2 separate regions of the Homo sapiens genome follow, and region 2 is linked to region 1. Evidence: fine-mapped expression QTL. Tissue or cell type: monocytes. Region 1 holds a variant in brackets; the other region holds the start of a gene. All regions are shown on one strand. Distances are between the middles of the regions.

Region 1 (8,106 bases):
GTTGTTAGCCTAGTATGGTGACAGAAATTCACTAAGGGGGAAAAATTGGCTAGGTGCGGTGTCTCATGCCTGTAATCCCAGCACTTTGGGAGGCTGAAGTGAGCCGACTGCTTGAGCTCAGGAGTTCAAGACCAGCCTGGGCAAAATGGTGAAACCTTGTCTCTACAAAAAATACAAAAATTAGCTGGGCGTGGTGGCGTGCACTTGTAGTGCCAGATACTCAGGAGGCTGAGGTGGGAGGATCACTTGAGCCCGGGAGGAGGAGATTTCAGTGAGCCGAGATTATGCCCTGACACTCCAGCCTGGGTGACAGAGCCAGACTCTGTCCCCCCCACCCCAAAAAAAGTCCTTTTGTTGAAGACACACCTTAATGGATTTGTTTGCCTATAAAAAGTGAAGGTTTTCCTGAGCAGAGAGGGAGACAATGAATTGCTGTGTATGAGAGAGTGAAAAGAAAATAATAATTTTGGAATTGGAGTTGTCTTCTACTGGGTCCTTGAGAAGGTACTGGTGACACAGTAAAGAAGGTAATGTTTTGAACCTGGCTATGCATTAAAGTTACTGGGGGGACTTTGATTTTTGAGACTTAAAAAAAATAAATTTTGAAAACAAATCTGGAAATTGTACAAATCGTACATGCATAGTCTGATGGATTTTCACTCACTAAGCGTGCCTGTGTAATCATCCTTTGGGTAAGAAGGTAAATATCACTAGTACCCAGGTGTCCCCTCCCAGGTGCTGCCCTACTCCTTCAAGGCAACCATGACTCTGATTTCTAACACCATTGATAGTTCTGCCTGTTTTCGAATCACATGTAATGTATTGTTCTTTTTGTTGGATTTCTCTTTTTTCACGTTATTGTTGTGAGATTCAACCATGTTGATACAGGTAGCAGGAATTTGGTCACTTTCATTGCTGTATAGCATGAACACAGCAAGAATGTGTAGTATGGGTATTCCTCAGTTTATTTGTCCATCGTTGATGGACGTTTGTGTTGTTTCCAGTGTTTGGCTATTTTTCACACTGCTGTTATAAACGTTCTTTAAAATTAATTTTACTGTGATAAAATATATATAACATAACATTTTCTATTTTAATCATTTTGAGGATATAATCCAATGCCATTAGTTACACTCACTATCTACTATCTACTTCCAGACATTCTTTTTTTTGTAACAACTTCATTGAGATTTAATTCACCATTACATAATTCATTTGTTTAAAGTCTAAAATTCAATGACTTTTAGAATATTCACAGAGTTGTGCAACCATCACCACAATCAATTTTGGAACTTTTTTTAATCACCCCAAATAGTATAGATACCCTGTATTCATTAGCAGTCACTCTTCATTTCCACCCACCAGGCCCTCCCAGCCCTAGGCAACTACTAAACTACTTTCTGTTTTTATAAATTTGCCTATTCTGGACATTCCATGTAAATAGAATTATCCATTATTAGGTCTTTTCTGACTGGCTTCTTTCACTTAGCATAACATTTTCAAGGTTCATTCATGTTGTAGCATGTGTCAGTAAGTACTTCAATCCTTTTTATCACTGAAATGTAGTCCATTATACGGCCAGATATACTACATTTTATTTATCCATTCATCATTTGATGGACATCTGAGTAGTTTCCAAGCTTTGGCTGTTATGAATAATGCTGCTATAAAGATTTATGTGCAAATGTTTCTGTGAATATGTTTTCATTTCTCACTCTTGTTTTTTGTTAGACACAGGGTCTCACTCTATTGCCCAGGCTGGAGTAGAGTGGTGTGATCACAGCTCACTGAAGGCTCTAATACCTGGGCTCAAGCAATCCTCTTGCCTCAGCCTCCTAAGCAGCTGGGACTGCAGATGTACACCACCACACTTGGCTAATTTTTTTTTTTTTTTTTTTTTTTTTTTTGTAGAGACAGGGTCTCACTATGTTGCCTAGGCTGGTCTCAAACTCCTGGCCTCAAGTGATCCTCCTGCCTTGCACTCACAAAGTGCTGGGAGCACAAGCATGAGCCACTACACTTGGCCTGTTTTCATTTTTCTTGGAGATATACCCCTAGCAGTAAAATTGCTGGGTCATACGGTAACTCTGTATTCAACATTTTCAGTAATTGCCAGACTGTTTTCCAAAGTGGCTTCATCATTTTATGATATCATCAGTGGCGTATGAAGGTTCCAATTCCTTCACACCCTTGTTAACACTCATTATTGTGGTCTTTTTTTAAAAAAAATTTAATTGACGAATAATAATTGTATGGATTGCTTTTAGCCATCATCATAGGTGTAAAGTAATGTCTCATACTGGTTTTTATTTGCATTTCTTTGATGGTTAATGATGTTGAGCATGTTTTCATGTGCTTATTGGTCATTTGCATATCTTCTTTGGAGAAATGTCTGTTAAAATCCTTTGCCCATTTTTAAAATTGAGTGATGTGGTTTTTTAAAACTTATTTTAGATATTAATCACTTATCAGATATATGATTTGCAAATATTTTCTCCCATTTTGTGAGTTATAATTTCATTTTCTTGATATTATCATTTGAAGCACCAATTTATTTATTTACTTATAAATTTTACATAATTTTTCTTCTAATCGTTTTAAAAATAATTTCAACTTTTATTTTAGATTTGGGGGCACATGTGCAGGTTTGATACCTGGGTATATTGTATAATGCTGAGGTTTGGGGGTACAATTGATCCATCACCCAGGTACTGAGCATAGTACTCAATAGTTTTTCAACCTTTGCCCCTTCCCTCCCGCCTCCCCCAGTCATCCCCAGTGTCTATTGTTGCCATCTTTAAGGGCATGAGTATCCAATATTTAGTTCCCACTTATCAATGAGAACATGCAGTATTTGGTTTTCTGTTTCTGCATTAATTTGCTTAGAATAATGACCTCCAGCTGCATCCATATTGCTGCAAAAGATATGATTTTATTATTTTTTAATGGCTGCATAGTATTCCATGGTATATATGTACCACATTTTTTTTATCCAGTCCACCATTGATGGGAATGTAGGTTGATTCCATGTCTTTGCTATTGTTAATAGTGCTATGATGAACATACAAGTGCAGGTGTCTTTTTGGTAGAACGATTTATTTTCCTTTGGGTATATACCCAGTAGTGGGATTGCTGGGTGAAATGTTAGTTCTATTTGAAGTTCTTTGAGAAATCTCCAGACTTCTTTCCACAGTGGCTGAACTAATTTACATTCCCGCCAACAGTGTATAAGTGTTCTCTTTTCTCTGTAGCCTTGCCATCATCTGTTGTTTTTGACTTTTTAATAATAGTCATTCTGACGGGTTTGAGATAGTTTCTCATTGTAGTTTTGATTTGCATTTTTTTGATGATTAGTAATGTTAAACATTTTTCCATGTGTTTGTTGGCCATTTGCATATCTTCTTTTGAAAAGTGTCTGTTTATATCTTTTGCCCATTTTAAAAATGTTTGCTTTTTCGGTTAAGTTGCTTATAGATTCTGGGTATTAGACCTTCGTCAGATGCACATTATGTGAATATTTTCTTCTGTATGTTGTCTCTTTATTCTATTGATAGTTCTTTTGCTGTGCAAAAGCTCTTTAGTTTAATTAGGTCTCACTTGTCAATTTTTGTTTTTGTTACAATTGCTATTGAGGGCTTAGTCATAAATTCTTTTTCAAGGCCAATGTCCAGAAAGGTGTTTCCTGGGTTTTCTTCTAGAATTCCTGTATTTTGAGGTCTTACATTTAAATCTAATTCATCCTGAGTTAATTTTTTATATGGTGAAAGGTAAGAATCCAGTTTCATTCTTCTGCATATGGCTAGCAGGTTATCCCAGCACCTTTTGTTGAATAGGGAATCCTTTCCCTATAGCTTATTTTTGTTGACTTCGTCAAATGTCAGATGGCTGTAGGTGTGCAGCTTTATTTCTGCTTCTCTATTCTGTTCCATTGGCCTACGCATCTGTTTTTGTACCAGTACCATGCTGTTTTGTTTACTGTAGCCTTATAGTATAGTTTGAAGGCTATAGTATACTATAGCCTTATAGTATAGTCAGGTAATGTCATGCCTTTGGCTTTGTTCTTTTTGCTTAGGTGCTTTTGTTATTTGGGCCCTTTTTTGGTTCCATATGAATTTTAGAATAGTTTTTTCTATTATAGTCTTGTGAAAAATGATGTTAGTAGTTTACAAGAATAGCACTGAATCTGTAGATTGCTTTGGGCAGTATGGTCATTTTAATCATACTGAGTCTTCTAATCCATGAGCATAGAATGTTTTTCTGTTTGTGTCATTTATGATTTATTTCCGTAGTGTTTTGTAGTTCTCCTTGTAGAGATCATTCACCTCCCTTGTTAGATGTAATCTTAAGTATTTTATTGCTTTTTTGTGGCCACTGTAAGTGGAATTTTATCATTTATTTGGCTCTCAGCATGAGCATTATTGGTGTATAGAAATGTTACCTATTTTTGTACATTAATTTTGTATCCTGGAACTTTACTGAAGTCATTTATCCATTCCAGGAGGCTTTTGGTGGAGATTTAGGGCTTTCTAGGTATGGAATCATATCGTCAGTGAAGAGAGATAGTTTGACTTCTTCTTTTCCTATTTGTATACCATTTATTTATTTATTTATTTATTTATTTATTTATTTATTTATTT[ATTTT/T]GAGACAGAGTATTGCTCTGTTGCCCAGGCTGGAGTGCAGGCGCAATCTCAGCTCATTGCAACCTTTGCCTCTGGGGTTCAAGCGATTCTCCTGCCTCAGCCTCCCAAGTAGCTGGAACTACAGGCACATGCCACCATGCCTGGCTAATTTTTAGTAGAGTGGGGTTTCACCATGTTGGCCAGGCTGGTCTCGAACTCCTGACCTCAGGTGATCCACCCACCTTGGCCTCCCAAAATGCTGGGATTATAGGTGTGAGCCACCATGCCCCGCCTATATCTTTCTCCTGCTGATTTGGTTTGGATCTGTGTCCCCACCAAATCTCATGTGCAATTGTAATCCTCAGTGTTGGAGGTGGGCTTGGTGGGAGGGGAGACACTTTTAAACAACCAGATCTTGTGAGAACTCTATCACAAGAACAGCACCAAAGGGATAGTGCTAAACCATTCATGAAGGATCCACCCCCATGATCCAATCCCCTCCCACCAAGCCCACCTCCAACATTGAGGATTATTATTCTAGCTAACAATCTATTAATGTTGTTTATCCTTTCAACGAATCAACTTTTGGTTTTGTTGATTCTTTGTGTGGGTCTGGAGGTCTCCTGCTCCTGCCATGTAAGATACTTACTCCCATTTTGCCTTCTACTTTGAGTAGAAGCTCTCTGAGGCCTCCCCGGAAGCAAATGATACCATGCTTCCTATATAGCCTGTGGAACCATGAGCCAATTAAACCTCTGTTCTTTATTTATTACCTAGTCTCAGGTATTTCTTTATAGCAATGTCAGAATGGACTAATGCATCTGCCTAATTGCTCTGGCTAGGACCTTCAGTACTATGTTGAATAGGAGTGGTGAGAATGGGCTTCCTGTCTTTTTCCAGTTTCCAAATATGCTTTCATTTGCCCATCAGTATGATTCTGGCTGTGGGTTTATCATAAATGGCTCTTATTATTTTGAGGTATGTTCCTTTGATGCCTAGTTTGTTGAGTGTTTTTATTGTGAAGGGATGTTGGATTATATCAAAAGCTTTTCCCACATCTATTAAGATGATCATATGTTTTATGTTTTTAATTCTGTTTATGTGGTGAATCGCATTTATTGATTTGCATATGTTGAACCAACCTTGCATCCCAGGAATAAAGCCTACTTAAGCAGGGTGAATTAACTTTTTGATGTGCTGCTGAGTTTGGTTGAGGATTTTCCTGAAGATTTTTGCATCCATATTCATTGGAGATATTGACCTATAGTTTTTCCTTTTTTTCACTGTATTTTTTTTTTGGCCAGTTTTTGGTATCAGGGTGATGCTGGCTTCATAGAATCAGTTAGAAAAGAGTCCCTCATCCTGGATTTTTTGGAATAGTTTTAGCATTGGTACCAGCTCTTCTTTGTGTGTCTGGTAGAATTCAGCTGTACATCCATCTAGCCTGGGGCTGTTTCTACTTGGTAGATTTTTTTTTTTTAATTACAGATTCAATTTCAGAACTCGATATTGGTCTGTTCAGGGTTTCGATTTATAGCTGATTCAGTCTTGGGAGATTGTGTTTTGCCAGGAATGTATCCATTTCCTCTAGATATTTTAGTATGCTTAGAGGTGTTCATAATAGTCTCTGAGGATCTTTTGCATTTCTGTGAGATTGGTTGTAGTGTCACCTTTATCATTTCTGATTGTGCTTATTTGGATCTTCTCTTTTGTTTTTTATTATTCTAGCTAACAATCTATTAATGCTGTTTATCCTTTCAAAGAATCAACTTTTGGTTTTGTTGATTCTTTGTGTGGTCCTGGAGGTCTCAATTTCATTCAGTCCTGCTCTGATTTTAGATATTTCTTTTTCTCTGATAGCTTTGGGGTTAGTTTGTTCTTGTTTTTTCTAATACTTCTAAATGTGATGTTAGATTGTTAATTTGAGACCTTTCTCTTTTAAGGTAGGTGTTTAGCACTATAAACTTTCCACTTAACACTGCTTTTGCCACATACCAGAGATTTTGGTATGTTGTGTCTTTGTTTTCATTTATTTCAAAGAATGTTTTCATTTCTGCCTTAATTTTATTGTTTACCCAAAAGACATTCAGCAACAAGTTGTTTAATTTCCAGGTAATTTTGTGGTCTTGAAGAGATCTTCTTGCTGTTGACTTCTATTTTTATTCCATTGTGGTCTGAGAGTATGATTGGTATAATTTTGATTTGTTTTAATTTATTGAGATTTGCTTTATGGCCAAGTGTGTGGTCAATCTTGGAGTATGTTCCATGTGCAGATGCAAAAAATGTATATTCTGTGGTTGGTGGGTGGAATATGCTATAGATGTCTATCAGGTCCGATTGGTTGAGTGTCGAATTTAAGTCCAGATTTTATTTGTTAGTTTTCTGCCTCGATGATCTAACACTGTCAGTGGGGTGTTGATGTCTACCACTATTATTATGCAACTAAGTCTTTTCATAGGCCCACAAGTACTTGTTTTATGAATCTGGGTGCTCCAATGTTGGGTGCATATATATTTAGTAAAGTCTTGTCGAATTAAACCCTTTATCATGATGTAATGCCCTTCTTAGTCCTTTCTTACTGTTGTTAGTTTAAAGTCTGTTTTATCTGATATAAGAACAGAAACCCCTGATCTTTTTGGTTTTTCATTTGTGTGACAAATCTTTCTCCTACCCTTTACTTTGAGCCTATGTGTGTCTTTACATGTGAAATGAGTCTCCTCAGTACAGCAGACAGATGGATCTTCTTTTCTAAATTCAACTTGCCACTCTGTGCCTTTTAAGTGGGGGTGTTCAGAGCATCTACATTCAAGATTAATATTGATATGCAAGGTTTTGATCCTATCATCAAGTTGTTAAGTGGTTACTTTGTAGTTTATATTATGTGGTTACTTTATAGGGTCTGTGGGCTATGTACTTAACTGTGTTTTTTTGATAGCAGGTATCCTTCTTTCACTTCCATGATTAGAACTCCCTTAAGGACTTTTTGTAAGGTTGGTCTAGTGGTAACAAATTTCCTTAGTGCATGCTTGTCTGGAAAATATTTTATTTTTCCTTTGCTTATGAAGCTTAGTTTGGCAGGATATAAAATTCTTGGTTGAAATTTCTTTTCTTTAAGAATGCTGAAAACTATCCCAGTTAAACAAAAATAAAGAAAAAAGAATTTAGAAAATGAGCAAAAGTCTTCAAGAAATATGGGATTAGAATTAGAAGAATTTCAAGCTCTGAAATTCTTTCTTCTGCTTGGTCCAGTCTATTGATAAAGCTTTCAATTGTATTTTGAAATTCCTTAAGTGAGTTTTTCAATTCCAGTAGCTCTGATTGATTTCTTTTTAAGACTTCTATCTCCGCTTTCATTTCATGGATTGATTTAGAAGTTTCTTTTTGCTGATTTTCAACCTTGTCTTGGAACTCATTAAGCTTCCTTGCAATCCATGTTTTGAATTCTTTGTCATTTCTTAGTTTCCCTTTTGGTTAGGAACTCTTGCT
Region 2 (8,106 bases), 77 kb before region 1:
TGCAAGCAGTCTGCAAACCTGTAACTCCGAGACCACAAATGCAGATTACAGGCTGCCATTCATGTCCACAACGGACCTGCTAGCAGAACACAGGAGAGACAGGTCAGGGCTAGAGAGGGGACCCCAGGCCACGGACAGTGTGAATAGCAGAAGCTAGGACAGACATTTATCTTTACAGGGGTGCAGGAAGAGAATCAAGAAACCAGCATGACCCAAAGGCTGAGAGAGGAAAGGATTTCAAAGGACAAAAAACAAGTGAGGTAAAAGCTTCAAAGGGGCTGAGCACAGTGACTCACGCCTGTAATCCCAGCACTTTGGGAGGCCAGTGCAGGTGGGTCACTTGAGCCCAGGAGTTTGAGACCAGCCTGGGCAACATGGCAAAACTCCATCTCTAATAAAAATACAAAAATGAGCCAGGTGTGATGGCACGTGTCTGTAGGCTCAGCTACTCTGGAGGCTGAGGCAGGAGGATTACCTGAGACTTGGGAGGCTGCAGTGAGCCACGATTGCACCACTGCACTCCAACCAGGCAAGACTGAGACCATGTTTAAAAAAATAAAAGAAATACTGCAAAGGGGCCAAGAACAACCACTCAGGAATAAGGATGGGCAGATGGGCCCCAGGAACTCACGACAAAGTTTTGGAGAAAACTTTGAGAAGAAATATAAAGAAAGGTGGTAGCGAGAGAAGCCAGAGGGCAGGTACTAAGAATGGAGCAGGAGATGGGAGAGTGGGGGAGGCTGGCAGGAGGGAGGAAAGAGAGGCTTACGAACCCAGGGTACCAAGTAAAGACACATGTAAATTGCCTGGTACACAGCAGGCTCACCACAAGTCTGACTCTGCCTCTTCCATCCTTCCTCTCCTAAGTCAAGCCTAAGGTTTTCAGGGTGGGGCAGGGGAGACTAAGGACAAACAGCACAAATAATATTCTAGTGATAGGACCCGGGTAGAGGTGAGAAGGAATGGCAGCTGGCACAAAGGAAAGGCTTCCTGTGTGCCAGGCCTTTTACATGCACCATCTCCCTTAATCCTCACACAGACTCCACGAGGCAGGCACTGCCATTACACCAAGAGGAGAAACCTGAGGTCAGAGGAGTCAAGCACACATCCAAGACCACAAAGCCCAAACCTGAGCCATGGATTCTTCTGCCACCAGAGCCCAGGCACTTGCCCATGGTGAGAGGCCAAGAAAAGGAACAGAGGAGAGGTCCACTTGCTTTCTCTGAATTGGGAGGAGATGAGGGGACGATGGGGATAGAGACAGGACATTTTGGGTGGGAAGTAAGAGATGCTGAGGGGGTTGAGTCAGAGCAGGTCTTATTTCATGAGAGGGAGAAGAAAAGACAAGGTGGGTATTTGGGATAAATCTGAGTCTTGTGATAAGGTGACAATGAAAAAAGACTGTGGAGAAGGATAACATGCCTGTGTCCCTAGCTCCCAACGAAACCTCAAGGTCTAGAAAGGATATTTTACTTCCCTGCAAGTACCTACTTTAGTTATCATGATGCTTCCTAAAATCACTGCATGTAATCACGGGGCTGAAACTGTTTATTTAATATTGATTTTCCTACCACAGTGAGAGTTGATGATGAAATCACAAAGAAAGCTCAGATACATTATAACCCTTACACCAAAGAGAGATATTAACTATCTAGTTTTTACCTTTTCATATGCAGTTTTGTTAATACAGCCAAATCTTTCTATGGTGCTTCTCCATCTTTTAGCATATAAATTCCACAGAGATTGTTGGTGTGAAGGGATAAATCTGAAAACATGGCCACTTCCTTTTCCTGCCCTGTGGCATGCAAACCTCTTCTGCAAATAGCAGACAAACTCGTAAGTAGTCATCATTTTATAAATCATTTGAAATGGATTCTTCAAAACACCATCTGTTGATCTGCTTAACTTTCTTATGAAAATAGGGCTTCAGCTCAGATATTCTGGAGGTGCCAGGAGGTAAATACCAACCTGAATTCAAATGTATTAAATATTTAGAGACTTACAGAACTTCAAAAGAGAGGAACCTTTGAGATCACCTAGTTCAACCGTCTTACTTTCCATCAGAGGCAAACACAACCTAGAAATCTTTAATAACTTGCCCCGACTGGAACGGCCATGAGAGCCCAAGCCTAAACTAGAACCAGGATGTCCAGCTCCTAACTCCCAGGTTAGTGCTTTTCTACCAGATCTGTTCGTTCTTCAGAGGGTTGAATAAAGAACAAATTTAACTACAGTTTTAACTTATTGTTATCATTCACTGGCTGCATCTACAATCAAAACCAAAATGCTTCTACAGAACCAGCTTCAGATGATACAGGCAATTTCAAATCCTGTCCAGGAAATTTCCAAACCTTCTAAATATGTTCTATAAGCTGCGTTAAAGACTTATCAGTAAAATGATCTGAGTAACAAAACATGGACTGAAAGACTGAATTTTGTATTTTCAAAAATATTTGGGAATTCCATTGATATGGAAATCAAATATAACACCAGCGAATTTTTTTAAGTCTTGCAAGCAGAGAGAGCATGATATTATTCAAAACTGCTCAGGAGCAGCAATGATTATTTTAAGCTCATGATTCAACGGGTACATTAATTAAAAACTCCACCAACCCAAATTCACAGATCCGGATATCAATGAGACCAGAAGAATTAAAATAATAGTTGTCATTTAATAATAGATTAAAGGGGTGAACAACAGCAGATGTCAGAAGGACAAATGACAAGCAAGCAGGTGTCGTGGGAAATGAATGCATCTAAGGGGCAGCTTTTATGGATGTTTAATAAAACGACGATGCTGGAAATACGGGTATACGGGTAGTGTCAAGAAAAGCTTGTTCACAAATACGGAATCTGATTTTTGGAAGCTGGGTGAGAAAACTTGGCTAATAATTCCTCGCTGAGGAGTAGCGGTGGAAGAAGGAAGAGACCGCAAGCGCCAAAGCGCCAAAACAACGCTAGGTGACCGGGAAGGGGCCGAGGCGGAGAGGGGAGAGGGGTCAGGAGGTGCGGGGTGCGCGGCGGCAGCGGGTCTCTCACCGGCCGGCGAGAACTTGACAGCAGGCGCCGGTGTCCAGCACTCCCCTTCCCTCCCCAGCTCCTGCCGGCGGGCACCTGAGCTCACCCCGCTGCCGGCTCTCGCGACCCCTCGGGGAGGCTAACATGCGCCCCACAAGGTCGACGTTCACCTCTACCTTCCTCGTCTTCTTCCAAGCAAACGGGAAGCTCTCTGGGATGTCAACGCCCGGCAATAGCCGAGCGGGAACCTTTTCTTCCCTGACATCTGTCAAACCCGGAGCTGGAGCCAGGCTCGCTGCGCCCTCCGCGGAGCTCTGGGACTCCAAGGCCGGCCCGCACCCGGGCTCCGGGCGACATCCCCAGGCCGACGCGCACCTGCCCGCAGACCCACGGGGCATCCTTGAGGGCCGCCCAGGACCTGGACGGCACAGGCCCCACGAAAGTTCGCAGGCTGGGGTCGGCCCCGTGCCGGCCGGGGATTCCCGGGTGCAGCGCCAGCCCTGGCTACAGGGCCGAAGGGGCGGGCGGACTTGGACTCCCCAAGCCCGACGGAGACGCCCTCCCCGCCCCCACCCAGCCTCGCGGGCTCCCGAAAGGGAAGTGAAGCGGGGAGGAAGGGCAGACGCGGCACCGTTCGCCCAACGCCCTTGAGGGGCAGCCACCAGGCATGGTCCCCTCGGGGATCCCCGAAGCTCCCGGGGACACATCTAGGAGTCCTCTTCGGCCGAGTCACTGCCCCCAAGGGCAGAGCTATCCCTTTAAGAGGCAGCTAGCTGCCCCCTCCCCCCGCCAGGTAGCGATGCCCGCGGAAGGGCGGTGGGTACTCCAGCGAACACTTTCCCGGCCCCTTTAAGGGCTCCTGCAGCACCTCTGCCTGCCCTAGCCCGCAGCGGCAGCCCCCGCGAGGAGGATGGGGGCGGACGGGCGCGGCGCCTTTAAGGGGCGCAGCCTCCCCACGGCCCGGGTGGGGGCAGGGAGCGGTCACGGGCCCTTTAAGGCCGGCAGCGGGCACGTCGGGCAGGGTTCTTCGGCGGCCGGGTTGCCCCCGGGGCGGCGGCAGGGGCGCAGCGCCCGCGAGGGTGCTAACGGCCCCCGACGGGGTGCGCGGGATCGCGTCGCTGGCCGCCGCCGGCCTGACACTCACCGTGGCTCGCCGGGAGCGCCCGCGCCCGCGCCCGCACTCGGATCCCGCGGCGGCGGCGGCGGTGAGTCCGGCGCGGGTAAACAGGCACCTCCGTCCCTGACCTACTTTCTGCCTTCCCTAAATGTCGCACCACTAACCTACTTTCCGACCAATCCGCTCCCCGCCGGCCCAGGCCCGGCCCCCCGCCCACCAATCGCTGTGCCCAACCCCCCTTCCCCGCCCACCAATGGAGGAGCCGCAGCGCCCGGATACCTGCCTCTTCCCGCCAGCCAATCCGAACGCCCGAAGGGAGCCGGTCCCGGCGGCCGCCCCCAGCCAATCCGCGCGCGGCTCGGCAGCCCGCTGGCCAGTTGTGTGGCGGCTAGAGAGGCCGCTGACCAATGGCGAGGCGGCGGGAGCCGGTTTACCTGCTACTTTCCTGCCACCAATCATTTGGCGCACAGGAGCGCACGCCCCGAGGAGAGGACCAATCCGCGCGCGCTCCCTGGGTTCCTCGCCCCTGCCCTCTCCCTTTCCCCTCAGGTCTCCCACTAGCCGCGGCCACTGCGGTGCCCAAGCCGCGCTCCTCGGGGTCGCCCGGGATGTCCCTCTTCTCTGGGTCCCCTGCCGGCTGGCGTTTGGCCGCCCGCCCTCACCCCTCCTCCTTCTTCTTCTCCCCTCCGGGCATTCCGACGAAAAGCAGCAGTTCCTGACTCCCTCTCTCCCTCCGGCTCCATCTAGGAAACCAATTTTAGGAACGTTGAGTGCCAGACCCTTCCTAAAATCCCTGGTTTGCCAAAGTCTCAACGAGAGAACGGATACTTAGTATTTCTAGAAGGCATTTCCACCCCGAGGACTGCAAGTGTTCTCACGTTCTTTGCGTTCATCATGACCTCCAAGTGTCCCACTGGAGCTGTCATTCCCGTAGTTCCAAAGAGAATACTCGAGCGCGGAGCGATTCCATTGCATTTCCTTCCAGTAGCCAGGTTTTGACCACTTACTGAAGAGTAGACACCAGCCCCGCGGCAGCGCTCTCTGCTGCAAAAAGCTGTCTACGGAGCAAGACGGAAGGAAACAGTTACAGAAAATAAAAATTTGATAACGACATGCGACTCGGTTGCTGAGAGGACAGAGAAAGTGACTTATTTTTGCATCTCAGGCACTTTGTAGAGGGCCTTTAGCACAAAGAACTCCCGGCTCTTCCAGATGTTAAACTCCCTGAATAGAAGGACAGCGTCTTCTTTTTCGTTATCCATCATGTCAGCTCTCCTTTAGCGCCTGCTGGGGTAGGGTGGAGTGGTGGGGGCGGGGCTGGCACCCAACAAGTGCACCATAAATATCTGTTGGCTGGATACATGAACAAATGGAATTAAATAAATTGGCCTAATTCTGTTACCCAGACTGGCCCCCGTGACTCTAGACTTCTAGCCTGGTAAGTTCCTTGAACACAGACACTGCGTTTTTTAATCTCTGTAACACCATTGCCCATCCCCAGCTCATTGACAGGCACGGAGTGCCCAATATGTGCTTGTGGTCTGAATGCTGACTGTTTTCGAGGTCAAGCAATTCCGTCGGTAGCTTGCTATTTTTCCGAAGTTTACACGCAGGTGGAATCTTATTGCTCCTTTGTCTCTGCCCCCATTTCATGAGGAGATCACTCTAGGTAAGTGGGACTTAAGCGAAGCACTTGACAAGATATCATAGACAAGATGAAGAAATATGGGCTGGATGCTAGTATCATTAATTGGACTAATAACTGGTTAAGTAACCATAACCTAAAGATGCTGATTGATGAGTCGACGTTGACCGAAAAGAAGATTGCAGGGAGTCAGCATTCCAGCAGCACCTACTACGTACCAGACACTGTGCTAAGTACTTTCCCCTCATGTTCTCCCTTAATCTTTATAACCACACTGTGAGGAAGCTTTTATTGCCCCATTTTACAGATGGGGAAACTGAAACTCAGAATTTAGCTAGCTGGCCAAAGGTCACACAGTAGGTGGCAGAGCCGTGATTCAAACTAGACTTTTTCTTTTTATTTCAAAGCCTCTATACCACACCAGTTACCCTCAGAATGACAGAAGCCTCTCTCCCAGGTCCAGACATCAGAACTTTTATCAGTGTTCTGAAGGAAAATCCAGAAGATTCGCATCACATGTCCAGATGACACAAAGCCAGGAGGGGAAGAGACGCTGTTACACAAACCACATACAATATTGGAGCAGTGGGCTGACTCTAACAGGGGTAAATGTGGAGTCCCACCCTGTGTGAAGCCAGCCGGAGGCAGAGGTGTCTTAGATGCTTACAGGAGCAAGATAAAGGGTCTTAGGTGACAAATAATCTGAGTCCACAGTGAATTGTGGCTGCCAAAATAAATAAACGCTCTTAGGCTGCATCAGTGGAAGTCTGACATGTAAAGCAAGATAGGTGTTATTGTGCTGCCCAGTGTTGGTCAGTACCCACATGAAGTATTGTCTGCAATTAAGACTTGGCAGAAAGAAATTATCTACATGCACAAGTAGAGGGACCAGGATGTAAAGAGGCTAGAAACTATGTCATATGAGGAAATATTAAAGGAAGCAGAAGGTTTTGCCCCAGGGGTACAAGGTAACTGTCTTGATATATGTGAAGAACTGTCAAATAGAAGAGAAATTAAACTTATACTTAAGGGCCTTAAGGGGTTGAAGGAGAACCTGTGGGTAGAAACTCTAGAATGAATCAATATGAACAATTTTCTAACAGCTAGAGCATCCTCTGCCTTGATTAATTGAGTTTCTTGTCACAAAAAATGTCCAAGTGAGAATTGGATTACCATGCAGTGGGAGGCGGGCTGAAATAGGTGTCTTTGTGGACTCCCTTCCTCTGAGATTCTCATCTTGTACCCTGGCTTTCCTCTTTTAAAGGTTATCACCCTGCCTTATCCTACCCTCAGTGGCCAAGCAACTGTCTTCCCTCATGTGCACCTGTTTTTCCCTGTGTAATTACACCTTTCTTTGTGGTTCTCTCTGTTGGAGATCCCAAACACCTCCTTCCACTACTACCTAACTTCCCTTTTCTTTTCTACTTTCCAGGATACTGAACTTTCAATTCATAGGGCACTGCTAAGGTCAAAATATTGTCCTCAATGTAAATTTTACTGGGCATGAGTAGAATCATGTGGATAAAAGGAAGATAAGAGAGAGCATTTATTTGCACCTACTGTGTACCAGATGCTTTAAATACATTATTTAATATAATCCTCACGTTAACCCTAGCAGTTGATATGCTTGCCCTCCACACTTGCTAGCTGGATGACTTTTATCAAATTGCTTAACCTCTTTGTACCTCAGTTTCCTCATCTGTAAAAGGGGGATAATCTAGTGTCTACTTCATAGGGCTGTTATAAGAGTTCAATGTGATGATAGATGGAAAGCCCTTAACACAGTGCCTGGCATACAGTCAAGATGTGATACATATTAGGTATCACTCTTAACAATTCTATGAAATAGATATTTCTTGCTCCTGTTTTACAGATGAAGTTAGTGAGGATAAAGTAGTATAATCTACAGTAGTTTCCCTGACTCTGATCCAATGATTGGATCCATTAGAATTACCTGGGGAGTTTTAAAAAATACAGACTTCAGAGTCCTGTTCTGGAAGATTCTGATTGCGTTTCTTTGGGATTTGACATTTGTGAATGGTTTGATCTGTTAACCAAGGTTGACATCTGGGTGTACAAAAAATGGGAATTAAAAAAAAAATCAGGCATTAATGAGTTAACCAGTGTTTATAGCTTTTTCAGCTGCTTTTGAAAAGACCTTCCTTGGCTCTTTTTTTAATGGGATGGCCATAGCAGCTCAGAATGGGAGAGCAGTAATACCTCATTTGGAATGTGTCCTAGACTGTGTAATTAGGCTTTAGACTAGATCTTGCTTGCAGACATGGCCAAGATTCCAAAGATCTTGGTGCTCAGATGTGAAAGGGGC

What was found. PIP is the estimated chance that this variant, and not a neighbour inherited with it, causes the effect.
Region 2: it holds the start of BMAL1, and the variant in region 1 is fine-mapped to the expression of BMAL1 in monocytes (Fairfax 2014, PIP 0.94).

The regions. Positions count from the first base shown.
Region 1 is chr11:13,197,248-13,205,353 of GRCh38, reverse strand. No RefSeq gene overlaps it. Among named protein-coding and RNA genes, the nearest start is that of BMAL1, 76 kb to the left of the region's middle. The variant ATTTT/T (reference allele first, on the strand shown) is at 4,638.
Region 2 is chr11:13,273,980-13,282,085 of GRCh38, reverse strand. BMAL1 (basic helix-loop-helix ARNT like 1) reads right to left here and starts at 4,296. Exons shown (of 20, transcript NM_001297719.2): 1 at 4,163-4,296. RefSeq lists silencers at 3,286-3,625, 3,906-3,975, 4,046-4,695.